Regions from separate parts of the Homo sapiens genome. Here all the other regions are linked to region 1. The links come from fine-mapping of genetic effects on gene expression. A gene starts in region 1. Each other region holds a variant in brackets. All regions are shown on one strand. Distances are between the middles of the regions.

Region 1 (5,106 bases):
CCTGTGTGGCATTCCCCTCTGCTTCCTCTGGATCCTTGGCTCCATTAATTTTTTTCCACATTCTCCTATCTTCAGTCGCTTCCTTTTCCCTTTCTTTTTTCTTTCTTTTTTTTTTTTTTTTTGTGAGGCGGAGTCTTACTCTGTTGCTCTGTTGCTATGCTGCGATCTTGGCTCACTGCAACCTCCGCCTCTCAGGTTCAGGCCTCCTGCCTCAGCCTCCTGAGTAGCTGGGACTACAGGCATGTGCCACCATGCCCAGCTAATTTTTGTATTTTTAGTAGAGACGGGTTTTCCCATGTTGGTCAGGCTGGTCTTGAACTCCTGACCTCGTGATCCACCTGCCTCGGCCTCCCAAAGTGCTGGGATTACAGGCATGAGCCACTGGGCCCGGCTTTCCTTTTCCCTTTCTTTTTCCAGACAGGTAAAATGCACAAGGCTTGACCGTTCTTTTAAAAACGCTTCTCCACTGAAATGACTCTCCGTGGTCACAAATAACCTCTTTATTCCTGAAGCCAGTGGACCCTTTTCAGTTTTGCTCTCATCTGTTTTCTCCACTGTCAGCCACATGCCTTTTCCACCAATTTGCCTTCTTTTTTTTTTTCCTCTCTCTTTTTTTTTTTTTATTTTACTTTAAGTTCTAGGGTACATGTGCACAAGGTGCAGGTTTGTTACATATATATACATGTGCACAAGGTGCAGGTTTGTTACATATATATACATGTGCCATGTTGGTGTGCTGCACCCAATAACTCGTCATTTACATTAGGTATATCTCCTAATGCTATCCCTCCCCACTTCCCCCACCCCATGACAGGCCCCGGTGTGTAATGTTCCCCTTCCTGTGTCCAAGTGTTCTCATTGTTCAGTTCCCACCTATGAGTGAGAACATGCGGTGTTTGTTTTTTTTTCCTTGCAATAGTTTGCTGAGAATGATGGTTTCCAGCTTCATCCACATCCCTACAAAGGACATGAACTCATCCTTTTTTATGACTGCATAGTATTCCATGGTGTATATGTGCCACATTTTCTTAATCCAGTCAATTTGCCTTCTTAAAACTTCTTGGTGGCCCAGCACGGTGGCTCATGCTTATAACCCCAGCCCTTTGGGAGGCTGAGGTGGGTGAATTGCTTGAGCCCAGGAGTTTGAGACCAGCCTGGGCAACATGGTGAAAACCCGTCTCTACAAAAAATACAAAAATTAACCCGATGTGGTGGCACTTGCCTGTGGTTCCAGCTACCTGGGAGACTGAGGTGGGAGAATCACCTGAGCCTGGGAAGTCGAGGTTGCATTGAGCTGAGATTGCGCCAGTGCACTCCAGCCTGGGTGACAGACTGAGGCCCTGTCTCAAACAATAAAACTTACTGGTTTTCCTGCCTGATTGCTTTCTCTGAACTGTACCCTAGATCTTCCTACCGTGGTGGTTCAGATGAGAGATGATGGTAGCCTGTATGTGGGTAGTGCTTATCAGAGATGGAAATAAAATTGACAAGAGTTGATAATGTATTAGAAGCGGAGGCTAAGAGAGAGGTAAGCAAGATAATCACTAGGTTTCTGACTTGCATAATTGGGCGGTGATGTCATTCACTGAGATTAGAAGCATTCCAGGGCGACTATGTGGTAGAGAGGCTACAATGAATTCAACTTTAGATGTATTGGAGATGTGTTTAGAATGTCTTAAGGGTAAATGTCACATAGGCTTTTATTTATTTATTTATTTGAGACAGAGTTTCGCTCTTGTCGCTCAGGCTGGAGTGCAGTTGGGTGATCTTGGCGCATTGAGACTTCCACCTCCCGGGTTCAAGCAATTCCCCTGCCTCAGCCTCCTGAGTAGCTGGGATTACAGGCATGCACCACCACGCCCAGATAATTTTTGTATTTTTAGTAGAGGCGGGGTTTCACCATGTTGGCCAGGCTGGTCATGATTTCCTGACCTCAAGTGATCCGCCCACCTCGGCCTCTCAAAGTGCTGTGATTACAGGCATGAGCCATCGCACCTGGCCATGAAGGCTTTTAGATGGGTCTGGAGCTTGGAGGAGAAGTCTGAACTAAGGATAAACTAAAGGTAAGTTGCTGAGTCATCTGTAGAGAGGTGGGAATTGAGGGCACGGATGAGACAGCCTAGAAGAAAAGGAGGAGAAGATGAGAAGAGAGTATCGAGGTATTGGAAACTGGGGAGGGCAGACAAGTCTAAAAAGGAGACTGGAAAAAAGTAGTTGAAGATGGAGAGGGCAAATCTGGGCAGTGTTGGGACACGGAAGCTGAGGAAAAGAGCAGTTCAAGATGCTTGAAATGAACACACCAAAAATACTGTGAACTATTCAGCACGTCCTTGTTTTATAAGTAAAATTCATAGTCACATCAGCGAAATAATTTTAAATGTATGTCTGTTGACTTAAATATTGGTTTTCTTTTGTGACTGAGGTTCCAGTACTTAGGAAAGGAAATGAAAGAGAGGCAGGGCACTCAGGGCTGACTGTCTTCTCAAAGTGCTAACTGATAGACTCTTCCAAGAATGGAATCATTTGTGTTTTCTTTTTTTTTTTTTTTTTTTTTTTTTGAGACGGAATCTCGCTCTGTCGCCCAGGCTGGAGTGCAGTGGCGTGACCTCGGCTCACTGCAAGCTCCGCCTCCCGGGTTCACGCCATTCTCCTGCCTCAGCCTCCCGAGTAGCTGGGACTACAGGCGCCCGCCACCACGCCCGGCTAATTTTTTGTATTTTTAGTAGAGACGGGGTTTCACCATTTTAGCCGGGATGGTCTCGATCTCCTGACCTCGTGATCCGCCCGCCTCGGCCTCCCAAAGTGCTGGGATTACAGGCGTGAGCCACCGCGCCCGGCCTCATTTGTGTTTTCTATTAAAACATATAACCCAGGGTATTAGACCACCATGGTGGTCACGGCGATCACAAAATATTTTTAACTGGTTTGCTGTGAGCTGATTTAGTGTTCTGAAATTTTATTATCTTGACTGGTAGAATTATTGGAACCAGCCATACATGTTAGAGTGATTGACAGCTACTTCTGATGAGGCTTTTATTGGATCTCAGGCAGCCTGCAAGTCACTGTCCTTTGCATTCAGATGCATTTATTTCCACAGCCTCCAGGGTAGCTAATGTTATTTTTCCTTCCCATTCCGAAATTTTAAGATGCCTCAGCTTTAGCCTGGCTCCTAAACTGATGGACAAGAGGAGAATATGAAGAGGAAGACGGGTCTCCTGGAATCCTCAGTTCCCAGGCTCTTCCCTCCAGTGGTCCAGGAACACTTTTGTCCCTGTCATAGATTTGTGTAATTCTCATGATGTGTAACATATGGAAAGAAAAACCAAGTTTTGTGTAGCCTAATAGATAGCTGTTTAGGAAACCATTCCAACTGTCCAGCTTTCTGAGAGTTTGCAAATATCACTTTACTTCTTACATTAATAGAGCCTCATGCAAATCAAATCATGTTGAACTTTATTAGCTATGCTTGATGTTATTTATGTTCTAATTAAATTAATGAGAATCTTGCATTTCTTCACAAAATTAAATTTCTAGAGTCTCTTTTTATTGTAATGTCTACATTCCATAATCAATGAATGCTTTTAATCCTCTGCAGTGATACTTTCTAGTGTTTTGGGAATGAAGCAAAGGCTTCAGAAACATTCAAAACAATCGAGTGTTAGGCTGTGCTATTGTTTGTTTAATGGGCAGAGGTCACTTGCTATGGGAATACTGAGGGTCTGCATGCTGGAATCATTCTCTTTTTGCCCAGGATGGGATCATTGGGTGAGTTTACTTAATCCATGGGCTTTGTTTCCCAAGACTGTGTCAGGGAACAAGACACAATTGTTTCCAGCCCCAGAGTCCTCTTGAGAGAGTGGCTCCAGCAACTTTGCTCTGTCTCATGTGATGTAGCATCCTCCGGCATCATTTAGAAAAGTGAAAGAGCAAGTAGAAAGGAATCTATCTGATCTTCATTTCTTTGCTGTTGTTGTTGATTTGTGTCACACATTGCTTCTCAGGTGGCCCCAAGAGTAAATCAGAAATTCCAATTGAGATTGCAAATTTTGTTTTAATTCTCTGTTGCTTTTCCAGCAATCAGTGCTTTCCTTTAAATTCTGTCTCGTCTCCTAAATGAAGGCAGCGTCGTGGCCCAGTTTGGGTCTCTGTTTAGCAACTGTGGTCTGTTTGAACTGAGGCAGTCCACATGTTACTTCCATTCTTTAGATTAATGTGATGACCGTAGTCCCTGCCAGAATCTTTTGGAACCAGTTATCCCAGGATATTGACATGTGACACGGCCATAGGACTGAAAACTTCCTCTCTTCCAGGGCCAGCCACAGGAGAGAGAAAGGGATTAAGAGGCTACTGTTGTGTCAATGCTGCAACTTGCTTTAGGACTCTGAGCTGGTTTCTTAACTTTTCCGTTGATGAGCAATAAAACCAGTAGAACAATAACTGCCTTCAGTGATTTTACAGATTTGTGTTAGTTAATAAATATAGGAATTTAGGGAAAGCTGTTTCTGATTTATATTTGATACCGATGTAACATTTTATTGGCGGGCGCTCCTGCTGGATCCTCACTCTGTGGTTAACAGTGACTCCTTTTCTGGTAGCACTCCCTGGCTCTGCAAGTCACGGGAAATAGCGTAAGAGCTCACTTGTCTCTTATGTTGAACAAACAGAGGCAGCAACCGCTATGGCAGAGGGTGGCACCTTCTGGCTATGTGTTTTCCTAAGTGGCCTGAAATGAAACTCCTAGAAGTTGTCTCATTGATAAAATGAATGCAATCTAGGTACCACTAATTATCTAACCCCGGGTCATCAGCAGGATTTACCACCACTGCCAGCAGCCCCAAGGCATAGGGGAAGAAAGAATTTTTTAAAAAGAAGTCATGGAAGCAACACAGAGAGAAAAACAAAGCAGCGCTTATGAATGAGATTCGCTATGAGCCCCCACCCCCGCCCCTCAGGAATAACATTTTAGATAAGCAGTGGACACGAAGCAGGCCCCGCTCTGAAAGAGCACAGGAGGTAGAAATGTCTTCCTTTTCTAGGATATAGATGGTGTGGGTATCAAAGCCATTGTTGACAGGAAGGAGGTGGTGTTGGATAAGAGACTAAAAA
Region 2 (5,106 bases), 530 kb after region 1:
AGAGGAGTGGGGGAGGCTCTGCCCTTGTCTACATGCCTCTGAACTCATGTTAGCTGGGGGGTGTTTGAAAAAAAAAAGAATAGCAGCTTGACTGCAGACTGCTACCCTTTCTGGTTTTATGGAGCAAAGCACGGGTCAGAATTTGCCCCATCAGCAAGACCTCCTAATTAAATGCAGCAGCAACAAAGACATTCGCATTGGGGTTACCAACACCCACCCCATACAATTCTCACCCCTTTCTCATCAGGATCCCCTTAGCACCAAGACCAAACTCACGTAAAATAATACTTTCTTTTGTCTTCCTTCTTTTGCATTTTCCCTGCCATTTTTGATAATAGGTAGGTAGCAGGCAGGGGAGTATCAGGTGGTGCCATGATGTGGGCGTAGGCGACTGCTCTGTTTCCCTTGGTGATAGAAGCATTTTCTATCCAGAACCTGATTTTTGAGGATTTCTTACTACCTTGCTACAAATTATGATTTGTCTTTGAGATGATAATTGTTAAAATACATAAACCATAGGTTCCTTCTCAGAAGACTTACATGTAAAATCTTTCGCTGTTGCTGTTGCAAATCACATTATTGCCATTAAGATTCCGCATCAGCCCGCCGTTCCGGGTTCGCTGTTTGTGCACAAGTCCCTCCTCAGGAAGGACGATCAAGGAGTGATTTATGCCTACATGTTTAGTCATGACGGGGTTAGTAGTTGTGTTCCACTTCACCTCAACAACAGATACGAGGCTGTTACAAATTAGCAATGTGGGAAAAGTCTTGCGGTAACCGGTGACAAGATGGAGGGGATTGTTTGTTTTTGTTGTTGTTGGCCGTTAAACTATGGAAGGAAATTTGAGCCTACGCAACTCTGTTAGATGGAAGAAAAGATTCTCCCTCTGTATAAAATGTGTGTGTGTGTTTCTGGGTGGGTGTGTGTGTATATTACATACACACGTATATACACTACGTATACTATATATACACATCACACACATACACATTATAGTGAAAGTGGGAGAAAGATGGGTTAATTAAGTCCTTCATGTGAGTTCTTACTGGGATCCAAGTCTGAAAGCAAACCCGTGTAACCCACGAAGCAGCTCTCAAAAGCAGGCTAGCTCTGGGATGGCCCTGAGGAAGACCCGAGGAAGGCCCACTCATGAGGAAACTTGAACATTTATCCCATCTGGAGGCCTTCAGAATGAACCCAAACCAACATCTGCTGCTGTCTTGCCTGCCCAGAACAGGCTTGGTTTTGACCGGAGAAAGCAGTCACATTTCAGTGACTCTCACTCCGGCTTCCCTAGGTGAAAATGACAGAGGTGTGGGGAGGGCATTGCCGCCAGTATATACGTAACGACATATGCTGGTCTCGTGTTTGAGTCGGGCCAGTTCAGGGTCAGGCTGAATTCTGGACTGACAATCCACAGAAGGGATAAAGAGCACGTCACTCCGCAAAAGAGCCCACCTCCAGAGTTAGAATGACTTCTCTGCCCTGGTGTATGCGCTTCTCTAAAGCTGTGCTCTCATTTACACGTACTTTTCTCAAAAGCAGAAGATAATTTTAAAAACATAACCTTTGGTTAAAGAAGCCATTTTATGGGGAAGCACCAAAGACGATAAATACTCCTGTTGTCAAGTTGTAAAGAAAGTTTTCGAGAACTGCAAATTGTTTCCACTTGAATAAATTTGCAACATCAATAGGCTGTTGACATTGGGTTGGTAACAGTCTAAATCACTTGATTTTACTCTCAGATGAGCATCTACTGAAGATGTTTAAGTAGAAAGGTATTATAATCATGGTGTTTCAGATTGATTTGGTATCAGTGAATATGGGAAGAGGCAGATAGACCCATTTTAAAAGTCTAGGGAAGCTCTGGGAATAGAAAGATAAATATCTGAGAGACATTACCAAGGAAAAGGAGAAAGTTAGGAGCTTCACGTCAGGTTGAATATAGCATTCTCAGCTGAGAATGACTGAGGCTGTGATTCTCCGAGGCATTTGTCGATAATCCCACTACTTAGGAAACTTTAAAAAGAGATTTAAAAATATACCACAAAAGCTAAAACAGCAACTAGGCAAACATGCAATCCAAATTAAAGACCAACAAACAGATAAACATCAAATAAGGGCATCTCATCAGTGGAAGAGCGGTAGGTCACGGAGAGCCTGAGG[A/C]AGTTTGTCCTTTCCAGCGAGAGTCCTTTGTAAAGAGGGGTCAGGCAGGAGCAGGAAGGAATGTGCTGTGTTATGAATTTGAAACCATGAGGCTAAGGCCAGAGGAATGCAATGGGGGGCATGAAGTTGATGTTCTATTCAAATTCCCTGGAGCCTATTGCATTGTACATTCAAAAAGCTAATAAAGGAAAACTACCTCTCAAATCTATAAGCTGGGCAGGGCTAGTTCACCACTAAGGCCAAGCAACGTTCAGTTGAGTCACACAGTTGCAAATAAGCAAGAGAATCTGAATCCGCCCAGAGGCATATCTAGTTGTTGGAAAGGTCTTTTTAAGACCTGGAGTCAGAGTATTTCAGAGGCTAGCTGGACATTCGTGGGTGCATTGGTTTTCTTCTTTTGTGGAGGTAAAGAAGAGTTAGCCTGATGTTTATGGAAGTACCTGAGAGTCGTCTTTGAAGACATTTTCTTTCACTCCCTTAGTCAGAGTCCCCGGGTCATTTTTCTGATGTCTTTCCTTCATCTCGTTTTCATTTCTGTTGACATAGGTGCTAATCTGTGAAAAAGTTTTTACTCGTCCGCACTGAAATGAAAAAAAAAAAAATGATGTGGAGAATGTTTTCATCATAAAGCTTTATTCATTGCTTTTAAAGAGCAGTCCTAGGCCGGGCGTGGTGGCTCACGCCTGTAATCCCAGCACTTTGGGAGGCCGAGGCGGGAGGATCACGAGGTCAGGAGTTTGAGACCAGTCTGGCCAAGATGGTGAAACCCCGTCTCTACTAAAAATACACAAAAAAATTACAGAAACAGTGGCAGGCGCCTGTAATCCTAGCTACTCAGGAGGCTGCGGCAGGAGAATCGCTTGAACTTGGGAGGCGGAGGTTGCAGTGAGCCAAGATCGCACCACTGTACTCTAGCCTAGGCAACAGAGCAAGACTCTGTCTCAAAAAATAAATAAATACATAAATAAAGAACAGTCCTTTTGGCCGGGCGTGGTGGCTCACTCCTGTAATCTCAACACTTTAGGAGGCCGAGGCAGGTGGATCACCTGAGGACAGGAGTTTGAGACCAGCCTGACCAATATGGTGAAATCCCGTATCTACTAAAAAATACAAAAATTACCTGGGCGTGGTGGCGGGGGCCTCTAATCCTAGCTACTCAGGAGGCTGAGGGAGGAGGATTGCTTGAACCCAGGAGGCGGAGGTTGCAGTGAGCCGAGATCATGCCACTGCATTCCAGTCTGGGCGACAGAGTGAGACTTGTCTCGAAAAAAAAAAAAAAAAACAGTTCTTTTGAAAGAACTCACCCTACAGGTAGGTCCCGCCTCTCTTTGATATGTTTAAATGGCCTTATGAAACGATGGGAGTAACGGGTAGTAGTTTTTAATTTAAAAACCCTGTGTTGATCCCTGATTTTTTTCATGGTTTGTAAAATTGGCAAGTCAGGGAGCCACTCTCACCCCCACCTTAGGTTCCTCGTTAAAACCCCGCTTTCTTTAAACCTTCTTCAGCACCTCATGTTCTCCAGTGAGGAGATCCACCCAAGGCTCCCTTCCAGTATGACTCTGTGCTGGCCACTGTGCCTCAGCCGGGCCCCTGCACCCCGACACCTTCCTCCGCAGCCCTCCCAGCCCCACCCGGGCCCCTGCCTGACTGCCTGATCCCACAGTCTAGTTCACCACTAAGGCCAAGCAACATTCAGTTGAGCCACACAGTTGCAAATAAGCAGAGAATCTGCCCAGAGGCATATCTAGTTCTATTCCGGGACCTGGCCAGGTCCCCACCTGGGTGCAGCTCTTCCCCAGCTATGTCAGCGTGAACACATCTCCCCTTCTGCTCACTCTGGTGAGTGGTAGCCTCACAGGACACTCATTTGTAATAGTTAAATTGTCACGTATATGACCTCTGCTCACCCAGACTTCTCTGTTTTCACAATATCCTCACGCTTTAGCTTGCACGGAAAGGCTGTTCTGAAACTGTTGGGTGCCGGGTTAGATAGGAGCTCTGAGGACCCTGACACCGGAGCAGCCTTCCTTGTGCAAACACTTCAGCCCTGTTAGTGCCTGCACTTAGCTTCAGCTACTCCTTAGAAGGCACAAATTCAGAACTTCCAGGGCTAAACTGTTAAGCTGGGCCGCTAGGATCCCAGCTTAACCCTCTGTCATTCTAACTGTACTACCTACAAAGGTTACTTGTATTTTTATTTCCCAAAGAACCAAAGGCTAATAGGTGAGAGTCTGAACTTTCAGCTTCCTGGGCTGTATCTCCCTGTGCCGAGGATCCTGTGATATAGAATGCCTGCCCAGCAGGGAATGGAATGTGTGGTAAGCCAATGAAAGAGCAAAGTCAGAGGTTGCAGAAATGCTTTCTACAGGAGAAAGGTGAAGTTTCTGCTTCAGATTGAATGGGGCTAGAAAATATAAACCAGCAAAAGGGTCAAAAAAGGGCAGAGGAGAATGAATCAGCAAGCTGCTTGCAGGTGGTACAATCTATATAAAGCTAGAGTTCCCAGCTTTAAATCAGGCACTGTGATCTACAGGAGGGCTAGTGGGCCTGGGGTCAGCTGCACAAAAGTCCCAGTTATGGTCCAGTCAAGAGATAGCGTGAGAGCCAGATCAAATCAGCTAACCACGTCGTATTTTCATTTTCCGTCTCTGAAATGGGGGGGGGGGAAATAGTACAATACAGAATTCTCCTATGTAGAGGCATTCAAAAGGGCATTAATTTTTTTTAACCCGATAGCACGTTCTTCACATCATACCATGAGATGTGTAATCTGCTGCAAGACTTATGCCAAACTGAACGACAGAACTTTAGGCTGGTTTTGTCAATAATTCTGTAACTCTGCGCTGCTTGTTCTTAAATAAACCAGTGCGTGTTTGTTTCTTCAAGAGCAGTAATTTCTTCAAAAAAGCGATCACAGCAATAAACTCTGTTGGATT
Region 3 (5,106 bases), 210 kb after region 1:
GGGAAAGTAGCGCTGCCGGAGAACAGCTCTGAGGCGGGATCAAAAGCCGCCGGCGAAGCCCCGCCGAGGAACACGGCCGCTGCCCGGGGCGGCTCGCGAGCGTGCGTGTGTGGAGGGGAGGATGCCGCCCCGCGGGGTCTTCGGAGGGTGCCGGGAGCGGGTTCTCAGTGCAGTTCCCCCGTCTTCGCTGGGGGCACGGCTGCTCACAGGCCCCGGCCCGCGTGTGTGGAGCGGGGCGAGGGGGTGAGGCGAGGGGGTGAGGCGGCGGCCGAGCCGGGGCGCTGGGCGCGGGGCTGGCGGGAGGCGGCGGTGGCGGCCCGGCGCGAAGGGGTTAAGCGGCGCACCGCCCCCTCGGCGGCCGGGTGTAAACAGAGGAGCCTCAGCCTATCATGTCTGGCCGCCGCGCGCAGCCCGAGCCCGGAGCCAGGCGCTGTAACACGATACGCTCCAGACCCAGGCAACTTGGCAGCGCTGGGCTCGGTTCCTCACGGCCACAGCGAGGGCGCGCCGCGGCAAGGTGGGTGAGCGGCGGCGGCGGCGGCGGCCTGGGGCGGGCTGGCGGAGCGCGGCTCCCGGTGAGGCTCCCCGCGCGGCAGGGTCGCTCGCTCGCTCCGGGGACCGCGGCGGTGGCGGTGGCGGTGGTGGCGGCGGCGGCGGCGGCGGCTCCGCTCTTCTCCCTTGTGGTGTCGGAATGGGAGGAGGCTCGGCGCGGGTTTGAATCGGTGCGGAGGCAACATTCGCATCTGAGATGAGGTGGCTTTTTAACCCCTGAGGGACCACATTTAAGGATTTCGAAGAGATGGAGGCTGAACTTTCTCGATGACTCTTCGTCACCCGGAGTGGTGCAGGTAGCCGCGGGGAGAATGGAGTCTTTTGTTCCCGGTATTTTTAATTAGATGGATTTTTTTTTTATGAGTAGTGTACTGTCCTAATCCGTGAGGCAAAGCTGCCCTTTTGCCTGCATTCGGTGACTTTTACGAATTCGTTGGGAGCTAGTCTTAGCAGTAGTGATTTTGGATAATTTATGTCTGAAATGTGCAAAAATCGGCATTGAGCTTAAATTAATAAGCCCTTTGGTTCCATTAACTAAAATCCATCATACTAATTGCTTAATGGGGGAAAAGGTACAAAATAAGCTTGCTCATTAAAGAGCAGTCTTTTGCCTGCGAAATACGTAGTGTGATTTTTGTCAGGTTTAATAGAGCAGTCTCTCAGAGAAATTCAACTTTGCAGTTGTGCTTCGATGCAGGCTACTCCTGTGCAAAGATAGTTGGAGATGGTTTGGAAAAACTTGTGCTGTATCTGTTGAAGTAAAAATCATTTGCCATTGATGTGTGTAGTTCAATAAAACAAAGATCTGTGGCAGCTGTGGGAATGAGAAAGTCACATTTCCTCCCTCTCCTGTGCTGGCGTCTCTGTCTCTCTGGAATATCTTATAAATGATATATACAGCTATATGTGCCTGTGTCACAAAGTCATTCTGTCTTCTGAAAGCCTAATATAATCAAATTCAGTGCCTTAAGATGGTGTAGTTGAAGATTTGATCCCCTTCCACTAAAGTGGAAATACTTTCAGTAATTGAAAGCAGATTCACGTCTGGAGTTGTACAAGCCAAGGTTTTCATTTTTAAAATAAACCTTTTGTTCTCTGGTTTTAAATGTTTCAGAGAGCCATCCAAAGACCTCTGTGTGCTAATTGTTAAAGTAGTACTTAAGAAAGGATTGCAAATACCCAGAGAAGGCATTTAAGAAATCAGCTAACTTAACTAAGCCTCCCTCTCAGCCGAATATTTTAGTGCAGCATGTACTGGTCTGTGCCCCACATTGTTTTGTTTTTGTTTTTTTTTTCCAGCGGACTCCCAGGTATTAAAATGCGACTGCAGCGTTCAAAACACTCTAGGCAGAGGCCATCTGCTATAAGAGGTTAAAAAACTTGAGAAATGTTGGTGTTATCCCATTTTATACTGTGATTTACACAATGTGATGATGAATTTGAGATCCGCTATAAAGTATGTTTAATTTAAAGAGGTGGTGATTATACATTAACTGAGAGACTGAAACTCACAAA[A/C]ATATGAATGCAGGTGGTTCACCTGGTTCCTTTCTCTCATCTTCAGAGACTAAGTGTTAAAAAGCTTTAAAAAATTGGCTGTGAAAGACTGAAATTAGGGTACATTCTAGACAAAGAGGGAGTCACTTGATCTCTTATTAGCTGTGAAGATAGAGAAGAATAGTGCTGTATAAGAGCGTTACCTTCCTTCTTCAGGACATGATATCTAAAATGAGTTGTTTAATTATGAGGAAAAAGTTAAAAGAGTTGTACTTTTAACAATGACAGTTGACATCAGGAAAAGATAGAAAGGCGCATTCCAAATGTTTTTAATGACTAGTTTCTTAACCTGTTGTATTGATCATTAATAAGATGTGAATGGACGTATTTCCAGAGTATGACATGGCAGTTTGATTTCTTAGAAACTGCTCGGTAGCCCTGCATTTTACCTTGTTTTCTTGCCTTCTCAGTAGTTTATCATTGCAGCACATTATAGTAAATATGGCCATAATTCAAATGATATTCTTGTTATTATGTAAAAGCCCTCTTTTATAAAAAAATATTTAAAGTATTCAGCAGATTTTTAATTACCAAATAAAATCATACTAAATTTTGGCTGTTGCGTCACGTTTCTTAGATAGCAGTGGCCTAGTGTGGGGCATAATAGAATTTAATTCTTCTCGAAGATTTAGAAAAAGAAAAGCGACTTCACATGGACTCTTCTACTGATGTCTGAACACTGATTTTCAGTGTAATATCCTTGTCTAAACATTTAAACTAAAGCTTTTTGTGGCTTCTATTTACTGTTAGTTTTTATGTTCCTACATATTTTTACTTGGTTAAAGGGGTGCACAGGATCTTCTGGCATCTGGAATAATACATTCAATTTTTCACGGGACTCCTTTCTTTCATAACGTAGGCAAGTGGCAAAGGAGGCACTGTCTAAATACAGTGATCCTGATAATTAATGCTGTAAAATAGATTAAAATGCTGTATTTCAGGTATTCATTCCCTTAAAAGGGCCACCAGAACAGCGTTGCTAAGCACCCGTCACTACTGCAAGTAACAGAAAATGACCCAAATTAAAGAACCTGTTCTAAGCTGTATTCTTGCATTTTCTAAAGTTCATTTCAAAAGATTTAACAAGACTCATTCAATTAGTGGGGAAAAAAGATCTGTTTTCAGCTCTGATCAGCAATTAAGAGACTGGGCTTTGGAACATCAGTTCTTTATGTTTATAATTTATTTCGTTTGGTAGGCTTTACTTTAAACAATTGTGAATAAAGATTTTTAACAAGCCACCTTTCTAGCAATCCAGATGTAAATGCTAAATACAGGACAATATATTTGTTTTAAATTTTTATTAAAATGAGTTATTTTATAGTAACTTTGCCTCATTTAAAGAAAGTTTAAATTTCACACTAATATGATATATTAATGCTTTATTATGGATTTCTTACTCTGTGAAAATCTATATGTATACATGCACACATACAGACATATGTAGTTTAGATTAAAGGATGGCTGTAATTATTCTATCTTATCATAGATGTGAGTGCTTTAGCACCTAACACTTGAGAAATAGGATGTTCTTCCTTAAGGATATTTGAATGTTGTGGGAAAATGGTACCATGAAGGAGATAGAATGGTTTGGTGAAGAAAGTAAATAAATAAATTATTAGGAGCAGAAGTTTTCTTTTTAGATTTTTTTTTTGGCAGGGGACGGGGGGCGGGGGGGTGTCCAGTAAACTGTACCCTTCTGGGTTAGACCAGAACTTCTAAGTAGTTGTGGCCAAATGGTTAGATCTTTCAGTGGCCTGGTTCTTAGCTAACACAACTGCAGTCACAAATACAAGCTGCGGAACTTCCTGGCAGAGAGAAAGGAATGAAAGGATAAGGGCTATTAGAGGAGTGGGAGAGAGGAGCAGGCGGGTTCCCAAAGGTTCAGATTAGGATCATTAGTGAAATTTTTTGCTGGATCACTTTGATCTAGACAAATCTAAAGCATATAAATATGGATTTTAAGTTATGAATGATAAGTGCTATTTTGGCTATAATCACGTGAAGTGATTCATATCCAGAAACATTGACTGTTTTAAAGCCCAAGTAACACACTTCTTTATTCTAAAGAGATGTTTTGCATTAGAAATTTATTATGCTTAGATTTATCAATTTGGTATGACAGATAGTTCTAGCAATAGATAATGTGCAATAAATAAAAGTTGTATAACTCTTGTTGGAGTTTTGTCTGAGATGAAAAGTTATTCTAATACTCATTTTTGCATAAGGCCTTTTGACCTGAATTGAGTTCTCTTGTTGGGTATTTGGAATACCTTGTCTTCTGATATGTCCGAGTTTGGTTTTCCCTATAAAGAATAACAATGTGTGTACTATAGAGATTATTTTTATATGTGTATATATATATATATATGCATACATATATAGCAGGTTTGAAAGGATGGTATTTTCATATTTAAGAAACCAGTTGTTTTAGGATTGTTGTTTATACATTGATTTTTGTTACAGACCCAGCTCTTCAGTTGAAATCCTATGTATTTAAGTTTTGAAATGTCTACTCTTAATTTTTACTGTTGAAAGTAAAAATTTTACTATTGGCAGTTGTTTTGCAGGTTGAAAACCACTACCTTTTTGGTCTCCCAGAAACAGTTTATGCCACAGATGTTATGTTGGTACGATGGTAAATTCATTTTACAAGGGAGGAATAATAATTGAAAAGTACACGCAAATATTTGTGGGCATGTCACATTTAAATAATAGTTAAATTTGGGAAACGACATACTATAGTATTTAAAAGAAAAACAGAGTTTCTCTCTTAAATGTTATCATTCCCCTCACTTAATATTAAATAGTGTTTGACATAAATGTCTTGGTTTGTACATTGAGGAGGCAGAATATATTACAAAATGTAACAAAATGACTAATATGGGACTAACATAAAAAACACTTTAGTCTTTTGTGGTTATATATATTAACTTAAAATTTGTAAAAAATTAAAACGATGTGTGGAAGTTTCAGTGAGTTGTTTTCATCCTGGTTTGT
Region 4 (5,106 bases), 610 kb before region 1:
GGGGAGTGTGGGTTCCACCATGCTGATCCCCAGGAAACCTGTCAGAGGATCTCTTCCATAAGACAGTGGTTGTCAAGCTGGGCTCAGAGAGCCACCAAGCTACCTTGGGAACTTCTATGGGCTGAGAGGGTGGAGTGGAGAGGAACAGATAGGACAGAGGCCTACCACTTCCGCTTTCAACCTAGGGTGATGCTTCTCCTTTTACATGTTTACATATTAGCTTTCTTTGTAGGATTTCCTGGGAAGAAAGGGTGCAAGAGCTTTAAAAAAATTGTTGCAGAGCACAGTAATAGCATAGGCTTCTGGAGGGAGACGGGGCTTCCTCACATAGATCAAATCAAGAGAGGAGGCCACAGTCAGGAATTGAACAGACATGGCCATTCTTGTGGCAACTGGGGGGAAATTACATCGTGGGCTCCCTCTTCCCTGCTAACATATAGATACACATATGCCATATATAAATATACATAAACATACATGTATATATATGTACACACATGTGGAAGGAAAGAGAGAGAAACTTCAGTTTTTGTTTTTTGGTTTTTTTTGAGACAGTTTCGCTCTGTCATTCAGGCTGGAGTGCAATGATGTGATCTCAGCTCACTACAACCTCCACATCCCAGATTCAGGCGATTCTCCTATCTCAGCCTCCCGAGTAGCTGGGACTACAGGTGCGTGCCACCACATCCGGCTAATTTTGTATTTTTAGTAGAGACAGGGTTTCACCATATTGGCCAGGATGGTCTTGATCTCTTGAACTCGTGATCCACCCGCCTCGGCCTCCCAAAGTGTTGGGATTACAGGTGTGAGCCACCGCCCATGGCCATTTCTTGCTCTTCAGGCCTTCAGCTGATTGGAAGAAGCCCACCCACATTAGAGAGGGTAATAATCTGCTTTATTTAAAATCAAATGATTGCACATGTTAGTCACATCCACAAAATACCTTCATAACAACCTCTAGACTAGTGTTTGGCCAAATAACAGACACCACATTCTAGCTGATCTTTGACACACAAAGCAAACCATCACTGTGTCATGACAGGTTCCTCTCTTCCTCTCACGTGCCCAGCCAATCCATCAGCAGTTACTCTTGGCGCTACCTTCTTGATGTACCCACACTCCACCCACTTCTCCCCACCTCTGCTGCAGCGCCTCAGTGCAAGCGCCCATCGTGTCTTACTGGATTATTGGAATAGCATCTTAACAGTTCTTCTTTTCTCTGCTTTTCCCTCTTCGGTTTATCCTCAACGCAGCGACCAAAGTAATCCTGTTAGCTAAACGGATCATGTCACTGCTCTTCTGTTTAGAGCCCCTGATGGCTTCCCGTCACCCTTCGATTAAAAACCAAAGTACTTACAGTGCTATCATGCCCTGCATCCTTTACACTTCCCCATGACCTCTCTGACCTCAGCCCCTACCCCTCTGGTTTACACCACTCCAGCCATTTCGCTTCGCTTGATGTTCCCGAGAAACTTCCACTTACACACACTGCACATTCGGTTTCCTCTTTCTAAAAAGGCTTTCCCGCTAGATACCCATATGCCTTGCTCTCTGCCGCCTTCAGGTCTCCAAGTGAAGGCCACCTTCCCATGAAGACCTTCTCTGACCACACTACAAGATTGCGAAGCCCCTTCTTCCTCAGCAACTCCTATCCTTTTTTCCTCTGCAAAATTAGTTATAATTATTCTATAGTTTCTATAACAACAACAAAAAAAACTTCAGTGTCTTATCAAAATAGAAATGTATTTCTTATTTATGTGAGTGTTCCTGATTCACGAGCAACTTTCCTCCATGTGGTGACTAAGAAACAAAACACGTCTTTTGGCTCCCCCAGCAACTCCGGGCTGTGGAGTCCAGTGTGTTCAGCACATGGGTGGGGAATGAGTAGGTGGAAATTTATACCCACTCCTTAAGCCAGAAAATGACACACGTCACTTCTATGCACATGACAGTGGCAAAACTCGTCAAATGTTCCTATCCAGACGTGAAGGAGACCTGGAAATATAGTCCCTGGAGGAGCCCGTGTTTTTCCAGTAACATCTTCACACTGTGGGAGGAAAAGCCAAAACTTTGGTGGAACACTGAC[A/G]AGGCTCCACCCTCCTGACCTAATTACCTCCGAAAGGCCCTGCCTCCTCCTACAATCACAGTAGGGGTTAGAATCTCAACATACAAATGTGAGAGGGACACAGACATTGTCTGTAGCAAGCACTTACCAATTGTAACATGTTACATTTGTACTCATTTATTGTTTTGTTGTTGTCCGTCACTCCCACTAAAATCTATGGCCCGTGAGACATGCATTTTTGTTCATTTCAGTCATTGGTACATTCTCAGAGCCTAGAACAGAAATAAATAATTTCTGAGTGAACAAATGAGTAAATGGGTAGATGGATGAGTTGCTGGATGGGTGCATAGGAATGACAGGGTATATCCTGCCCAGCTGTAGTTCATCAGTAGAAGGGGTTTGGACCACACGCAGGCATTTTCTTGGCAAAGAGGAAGGGGAAAAGTAAGATGTGAGACCGTCTACAGGACACACTTGCCCTTGGTGACTTTATCCTATTCCCTTTACCTAGTAATTGAGTTTTATTACTATGTAACTTTTAAAAATTGGTTTATTCAAAATCAAGACATGGTTATCATTCTACTTAAACTGGTTGTTGGTAATAGAACCTACTTATCCCACACAGACTGACATAGTGCCTAATTGAGAGACACACAGAAAATGTTGGCCAAATAAGTAATTAAATCACGAATAAGTGGGCATCAGATTAGGTTTCCTCCAGCGTAAGCACTGGGACTCATTCATTCAATCTTCAGCAAGTATGTACAGATAAGGCCGTGAAAGTTGTGAAGTTGTGGCTGCATAGAAAAATACTTAATGCCCCCCTGTGTTTGGGGATCACCCAGTATTTCTTTTAAGAAGTATAAAAATTATTAATGTCAACTTTTCCATGTTCCTGCTCTCACCAACATAGAATGTTCCATCTGCAGAACAAATCCAAGTCAGAGGTTGAAATCCTGAAGTCCAAAGATCATTAGTCTGTCTGAACCTTTTCACTGCTTTAGAACCTTAAAAATTCATTATGAGAGCAGAGAGATTTGCTCTTTTTGCTACTGTACTCCATTTTCTCTGTAGTAAAAATGGAAACTTTATTGGAAAACATAATACATCAATTGTAATGATCATCATAGTTTGAGATGGTGGGTTTTTTTAAAATGTTACTTTCCTTAATAATCACTATGTATAAAAACTGCAAATATATATATTCCAGAGTTCCTTTAAATCAGCAGAGATGCACCTGCATATTTTGGTCTCATATATGAAAAAGGGCAATTAGCTTCTAAATTAACACATCCGTGTATTAATAACTGACATTTAGTAGTAGCCCAAAGGTCATATTGAAAGACTGTTCATGCATGAAGCTGCAGAACTTATTCTAATCATGCTGTACCTAATTGATTCACAGATGATCTAACTGGACAAATTGTTAAATAAAAGGGTGGCCTAGAATTCATTTTGTTTTGCATTTTTTTTGACTGTTTGGGAATACTTCAAGTGTATTCCTGTCATCACTTGTCCTTGTTTAGTCCATGAATCTGACATAGCAGAAAGTTCTTCTGGACTCTGCTTGGATATCAAGAGCAAAAAGCTATGGGAAATGATGGACTAAGAAATGAAATGGCACAGCAAAAATGTAACCAGGCATAATAACCCAAATGAAATAGCAAGCATATCATGGCATATTGACTTAAGAGATATTTTATTTATTTGCTGATTATTTCTTTTGTATGAATGCATCAAGCCCCCTGAACCCTAGTTAGTTATACAAATGAGCACCTCATTGTGACCATCCACATGCAGCCAAGGCAGCTCCACTCCCTGCAGCACTATGTCACCATCATCCCATGACAGGGTCCGGTTAATATCCCCACCACTGGCCAGCTGTGGTGGCTCACGCCTGTAATCCCAGCACTTTGGGAGGCCGAGGCGGGTGGATCACCTGAGGTCAGGAGTTTGAGACCAGCCTGGCCAACACAGTGAAACCCCGTCTCTACTAAAAATACAAAAATTGGCCAGGCATGGTGGCAGGCCCCTGTGATCCCAGCTACTTGGGAGGCTGAGGCCGGAGAATCGCTTGAACCCAGGAGGCAGAGGTTGCAGTGGGCCGAGATCACGCCAGTGTACTCCAGCCTGGGGGACAAGAGCAAGACTTATTCTCAAAATAAATAAATAAATCCCCACCACCCTCGGAGTGGTGCTCTTCCCTTAGCTACTGTGACACTACACACTCCTGATTTTGTTCCTACTTCTCGGCCAAGGAGATCCACCCCAACAGATGAACTCCTGCCAGTAAGGCTGAGGGCTGCACAGCCCCTGCGTGTGTGGGCGTATGGGCTGGATAAGGACTGTGCCAAGTGCCGTTTACAATGCCGTGTCGCTTTGCCATTTATTTTGTGATGCAGTGAATACATTTATCTCCATAATAATTGGCAAAAGGTACCCAAGTGTATCAGCCACGTCCTGGTGGTACACAGACAGCACTCACCAAAAGGAGAAGCTGAAGACAGTTGAATGAACAGGTAGGCAGGGACATCAAGAAGATGAAGGGGCTTTAGTGAGTTCTGTGGACCAACAGCAGCATCACCTGGGAAATTGATAGAAATGCCAATTCTCAGTCCCTACTCCAGACCTACTGAGCCTGAGACTCTGGGGATAGAATGCAGTAATCTGTGCATCAACAAGCTCTCCAGGTGATTCTGATTGCAAGTTAGAGAACCACTGTAATAATGGATCATGGCACATCCTAACAAAAGAAGCAACTGGAAAGTGCAAAGGTAAAACAAAATTGGTCAAAGAAATTTAGTTTCTTCCAGGTTTGACTCACAATTGCCCATCACTGCTTTCATGATGTAGGGATTGTTATAGTGCTTTCCTGCAGGCATCTATTTACTTACAAGCCATCCTTTTCCTTATACCTCCTCTGCCACGTCTCTGAAGCTGTCTCAAATGATGTAAAATTTCCAACACAACACCCTTTATCATACTTATGCATGATTACCAGCAGGCCCAGCATTTTCCCTTGCTGCACTGGGTATTTTTGT
Region 5 (5,106 bases), 490 kb after region 1:
CATCCATTATTCCTTTTATGTCATCAATACTATAGGTCAATTTTTCATGATGGATTTCTTATTATTTCTAATATTATGGCTGATTTACATTTACCACATTTTAATTAATACCTCCATTTTAGTGAGTGTATTCTAGGAGTCCAGGCTCTTGTTTAAAATTTGGGAAATGCCTGATTTTATCTGGAACACACTTAACCTTCCTTAGAAGAACTTTTTTTTTTTTTTTTGAGACAGTTTTGCTCTGTTGCCCAGGCTGGAGTGCAGTGGTACGATCTCAGCTCACTACAACCTCTGCCTCCCAGGTTCAAGTGATTCTCCTGCCTCAGCCTCCTGAGTAGCTGGGACAACAGGCACCTGTCACCCCGCCTGGCTAATTTTAGAGATGGGGTTTCACCATGTTGGCCAGGCTGGTCTCGAACTCCTGACCTCAGGTGATATGCCCACCTCAGCCTCCCAGAGTGCTGGGATTACAAGCATGAGCCACTGCACCGGCCAGAAGAGCTATTTTATTGAAAGGTGGTTGGCTCATCTCATCCATTTTATATTGATTTGTGTTTGCTACACTTCATAAACTTTCACTTTCTGACCCTCTCCCAAATTTTAGAGCTTCGTCCTACATAGATTCCTATTTATCATACACACTTACTGTGCTAACTCCTAGTGCATTTTCTCTAAAATATAGAATATTTGAGTAGCTTTACTTACAACTAATCCATATTCCTTCATACTCCTACCAATAGATTGTTCTAATCACTAATTTTTTTATTTCTTACTCAGAACAAACATTATATGATTCTTTTCAGCCATCTCTAATCCAAATATTTACTCTCTATGAAGGCAGATGCAAGTAGATTTATGTGTCACATACTGATGGGGATATGTTCTGAGATAGTTGCTGTTAGGCAATTTCATCATGGTAGAGCATCATGGCATGTACTTACGCAAATCTAGATGGCACAGCCTACTGCACTCCTAGGCTACCCATCTGTACAGCATGTTACTCTACTGAATACTGAGGCAGTTGTAACACAGTGGTATTTGTGTATCTAAACCTAGAAAAGGTACCGTAAAAATACAGCATTATTATCTATGGGACCACTCTTTTATATATGGTCTGTCATTATGTGGCATGTGACTATTGTATTTCTATTTCTTCTGGTTTCAAAAAGTATGCCTCATAGAAATTACTATCAGATAGTCGGGAGAAATCACTTGATGTGAAAAAAAAAAAAACAGTCAAGAAACAAAACTGATTCTACATTATGGCATCAAAAGGAAAATTCTCTTACTGGGGAACATTTCTCTCTACAGATGGACTCATTGACTGCATGGATCCCGATTGCTGCCTACAGAGTTCCTGCCAGAATCAGCCCTATTGTCGGGGACTGCCGGATCCTCAGGACATCATTAGCCAAAGCCTTCAATCGCCTTCTCAGCAAGCTGCCAAATCCTTTTATGATCGAATCAGTTTCCTTATAGGATCTGATAGCACCCATGTTATACCTGGAGAAAGTCCTTTCAATAAGAGGTTAATGCTTCTTTTCCATATGTAGATTTGTAATGATGTTATCAACAGTTACATACACTTATGTGAAATACTCATGACTGTGAACCTGAGGAAAGTGCTGTTTTTTAAATACAGTTTTTCCTCTTTCTGCAGATTCTTCACCAAACTTTGTATTTCAAGCATTTTTGACACAGTTCACATACTTTGTCAATTTCAGTACCTGAGACATAACAGGACATTATATTAAAGAGTCAATAAATCTTCATTTAACTAGTTGATTTTGTTAGCACAGTTGGAAATGTTTCAAAAGAAGCAGTGAAAAGACCCCAAAAGGCAGAACAGAAGTGCACTTTTTTTTTTTTAGCTGAGCTCACTAAATAATATAAATTATGAATGAATGTAATGGAACTGCTGACGGCATGGCAGTAAGATTGCATAAGCTGTTTGACTGGTGCTTTGCAGAGCAGTAATGACCTGAAAGTAAAGCAGTAAGTGAAAGCAGGTGTCTTGTGTCTCACTGAGCAAAAGAAGATGATTTACACCAGAACTCCTGGGTCTGCAGTAATTTAACAGCATTAATGCAGTTATAGCCAGCAGTTGATTCAAAGTTGCTGTACAAATGTTCCTTATCGCCCCCTTAAATCTTATACTTCTTGGTCCCTGAAGATTTACTGATTGCCTCAGAATTAATTGGAAAGTCTACTTTTCTTCATGTGAGCACCATATATATGACTTATGAAAAAAGCACA[G/C]AGTTTATCATTTTAAAAATTCATCTCTAAATTATTAGTCTTGATAACGCTCCAAAAAACAGATTGCCACAAATTAAAACCCAGGATAAACACAAGCCCTTTAGAGAATATGCGTTACACTGAATTAAAAGGGACATTGTCTTGGGAGTATTTCAGGTCTGATTTTTGTGAATAACGATGGATTGCATAGCATAGTGTTATTTTATCCTTAGGTTGAATTATCTATAAATCATGATAATGTTGGCCTGAAAAGACAGATGTTCATTCTCATTCTTCTGCTTTTCCAACAGCCTTGCATCTGTCATCAGAGGCCAAGTACTGACTGCTGATGGAACTCCACTTATTGGAGTAAATGTCTCGTTTTTCCATTACCCAGAATATGGATATACTATTACCCGCCAGGACGGAATGTGAGTTAGTCCCATCACACTATCTCTGAAGGATTTGAAATATAAAAACTAGACCTTCCTGTACCACTGTCATGTTTGACTGTCCTTTTAAATATGGAAATGCAGCAACTTTTTAGACTCTACAAACTTGTGACAGTACATATGGCAGAGATTTAAAGTCATATACTCACATACTTCTTCAAAAGTTGATTTTATTTTCTAAGGCATGGTAATACTGTAGTTTTGTAGGAGAATGCTCTTTGTCTCAGCAGATGTATGTTGAAATCTTTAGGGGTAATATTTTATAATGTCTGTAACTTGAGCTCAGATGGTTCCGAGAAAAGAGTCAATGGAAAGCAAATTTGGAAAAAAAAATTGGTGAACTTGGTGAATACACATAGGACACAAGAGTATTTATTGTATAACTCTTGGAATATTCCCATAGATCTGAAAATATTTCATATAAAAGTTGGGAGAAAAAGTTGATTTTCTTTATAAAGCATATTAACTTAAGGAGGTGTGTATTGGTAGTTATGTGGGATCCAGACAATTCACTAAGCATACCTTGTTCTTTCTTAGGTTTGACTTGGTGGCAAATGGTGGGGCCTCTCTAACTTTGGTATTTGAACGATCCCCATTCCTCACTCAGTATCATACTGTGTGGATTCCATGGAATGTCTTTTATGTGATGGATACCCTAGTCATGAAGAAAGAAGAGAATGACATTCCCAGCTGTGATCTGAGTGGATTCGTGAGGCCAAATCCCATCATTGTGTCATCACCTTTATCCACCTTTTTCAGATCTTCTCCTGAAGACAGTCCCATCATTCCCGAAACACAGGTAAAATATTCTCACAGGCAGTACTTGTAAATACAAGATCTTCAGATCATGTTTTGCCAGAGAATCTTAAAAATAGGTTATAGAGTCCGGGCACGGTGGCTCACTCCTGTAATCCCAGCGCTTTGGGAGGCCGAGGTGGGCAGATCATGAGGTCAGGAGTTCAAGACCAGCCTGGCCAACATAGTGAAACCCCATCTGTACTAAAAATACAAAAAAAAATTAGCCGGGCATGGTGATGGGCACCTGTAGTCCCAGCTACTTGGGAGGCTGAGGCAGGAGAATCGCTTGAACCCAGGAGGCAGAGGTTGCAGTGAGCCGAGATCACACACTACTGCACTCCAGCCTGGGTGACACAGTGAGACCCTGTCTCAAAAAAAGACAAAAACAAAACCAAAAAAACCCACGGATTATAGAATTCCAGTGCTATCTTTAAATAATTCTATAAGACCCTGTCTCAAAAAAAGACAAAAACAAAACCAAAAAAAACCACGGATTATAGAATTCCAGTGCTATCTTTAAATAATTCTATAGAATGAATATATAGTGGGTGTTGGGGTGTGTGTGTGTGTGTGTGTGTGTGTGTGTGTGTGTGTGTGTGTCCTACAGTAGACATTGTTATAGTAGGATATCTAGTTATTTCTTTTTTCTTTTTTTTTTTTTGAGACGGAGTCTCGCTCTGTCGCCCAGGCTGGAGTGCAGTGGCACGATCTCGGCTCACTGCAAGCTCCACCTCCCGGGTTCACGCCATTCTCCCGCCTCAGACTCCTGAGTAGCTGAGACTACAGGCGACTGCCACCAAGCCAAGCTAATTTTTTGTATTTTTAGTAGAGGCAGGGTTTCATCATGTTGGCCAGGATGGTCTCCATCTCCTGACCTCGTGATCCGCCCACCTTGACCTCCCAAAGTGCTGGGATTACAGGTGTGAGCCACCGCACCCGGCCTTTCTAGTTATTTCTTAAAGATCTACTCAAACAAAATACTTTTTCTTCAGGATATACCTTATATATTTATTAATAATAGTCAAATGAAACTGTAGCTTAAACTCAATCACTAATAATGTCTTTGTTCATTTATTTATTTATTGAAAAAAAACTTTAGTGCCTAAATGTACCTGACAGCTTGACTGACATTGTACCAAGTGCTACTGACACCACTCACTATTGCACATGGCTATTAGCCTCAATAACTTACTGTTTAATTATTGTTGTCAGTAAAAAGTGTTTTGGAAAAGGTAGTTTTGACAGAAAATATTCATTAATATAACTTTTTAAGAAATAGCCATGCATTCCCCATTCGTTTCATCTACTGAAATAGCTGAGGATTGTGTTCCGTCCCACATGTTTCCAGTTAGAAATAACTTTCAGATCTTAAAAGTAGGATGTTAGGTGTAATAATAATGGATTTTGCCAGGCGGCGTGGCTCACTACTATAATTCCAGCACTTTGGGAGGCCAAGGCAGGAGGATGGATCGAGCCCAGGAATTTGAGACCAACCTGAGCAACATGACAAAACCCTGTCTCTACAAAATATACAAAAAATTAGCCAGGCGTGGTGGCATGCACCTGTAGTCCTAGCTACTCAGGATGCAGAGGTGGGAGGATCACTTCAGCCCAGAGAGGT

Which allele goes with the higher level. Alleles are on the strand shown, and positions count from the first base shown. SD is a standard deviation of normalised expression in the study named.
As copies of C replace A in region 2, the expression in breast of the gene that starts at base 1,989 in region 1 goes up (small effect, 0.30 SD a copy in GTEx).
For the expression in skeletal muscle of the gene that starts at base 1,989 in region 1, A is the high allele of the variant in region 3 and C is the other (small effect, 0.18 SD a copy in GTEx).
In carriers of allele G in region 4, the expression in fibroblasts of the gene that starts at base 1,989 in region 1 tends to be lower than with A alone (moderate effect, 0.41 SD a copy in GTEx).
With allele G in place of C in region 5, the expression in testis of the gene that starts at base 1,989 in region 1 is lower (small effect, 0.28 SD a copy in GTEx).

The links. PIP is the estimated chance that this variant, and not a neighbour inherited with it, causes the effect.
Region 2: its variant is fine-mapped to the expression of TENM3 in breast (GTEx, PIP above 0.99).
Region 3: its variant is fine-mapped to the expression of TENM3 in skeletal muscle (GTEx, PIP 0.95).
Region 4: its variant is fine-mapped to the expression of TENM3 in fibroblasts (GTEx, PIP above 0.99).
Region 5: its variant is fine-mapped to the expression of TENM3 in testis (GTEx, PIP 0.96).

Annotation. Positions count from the first base shown.
Region 1 is chr4:182,241,414-182,246,519 of GRCh38, forward strand. TENM3 (teneurin transmembrane protein 3) reads left to right here and starts at 1,989. Exons shown (of 28, transcript NM_001080477.4): 1 at 1,989-2,063.
Region 2 is chr4:182,766,674-182,771,779 of GRCh38, forward strand. The region is part of intron 22 of TENM3 (teneurin transmembrane protein 3); the gene reads left to right. LOC105377571 (a long non-coding RNA gene) reads right to left here and starts at 717. Exons shown (of 3, transcript XR_939528.3): 1 at 541-717. The variant A/C (reference allele first, on the strand shown) is at 2,168.
Region 3 is chr4:182,448,567-182,453,672 of GRCh38, forward strand. All of the region lies in intron 3 of TENM3 (teneurin transmembrane protein 3), which reads left to right. Among named protein-coding and RNA genes, the nearest start is that of TENM3, 210 kb to the left of the region's middle. RefSeq lists a silencer at 405-454. The variant A/C (reference allele first, on the strand shown) is at 2,068.
Region 4 is chr4:181,635,518-181,640,623 of GRCh38, forward strand. It overlaps a transcript of TENM3 not described here. Among named protein-coding and RNA genes, the nearest start is that of TENM3-AS2, 190 kb to the right of the region's middle. The variant A/G (reference allele first, on the strand shown) is at 2,087.
Region 5 is chr4:182,727,654-182,732,759 of GRCh38, forward strand. It overlaps TENM3 (teneurin transmembrane protein 3), which reads left to right. Exons shown (of 28, transcript NM_001080477.4): 14 at 1,312-1,528; 15 at 2,547-2,666; 16 at 3,225-3,486. Among named protein-coding and RNA genes, the nearest start is that of DCTD, 190 kb to the right of the region's middle. The variant G/C (reference allele first, on the strand shown) is at 2,257.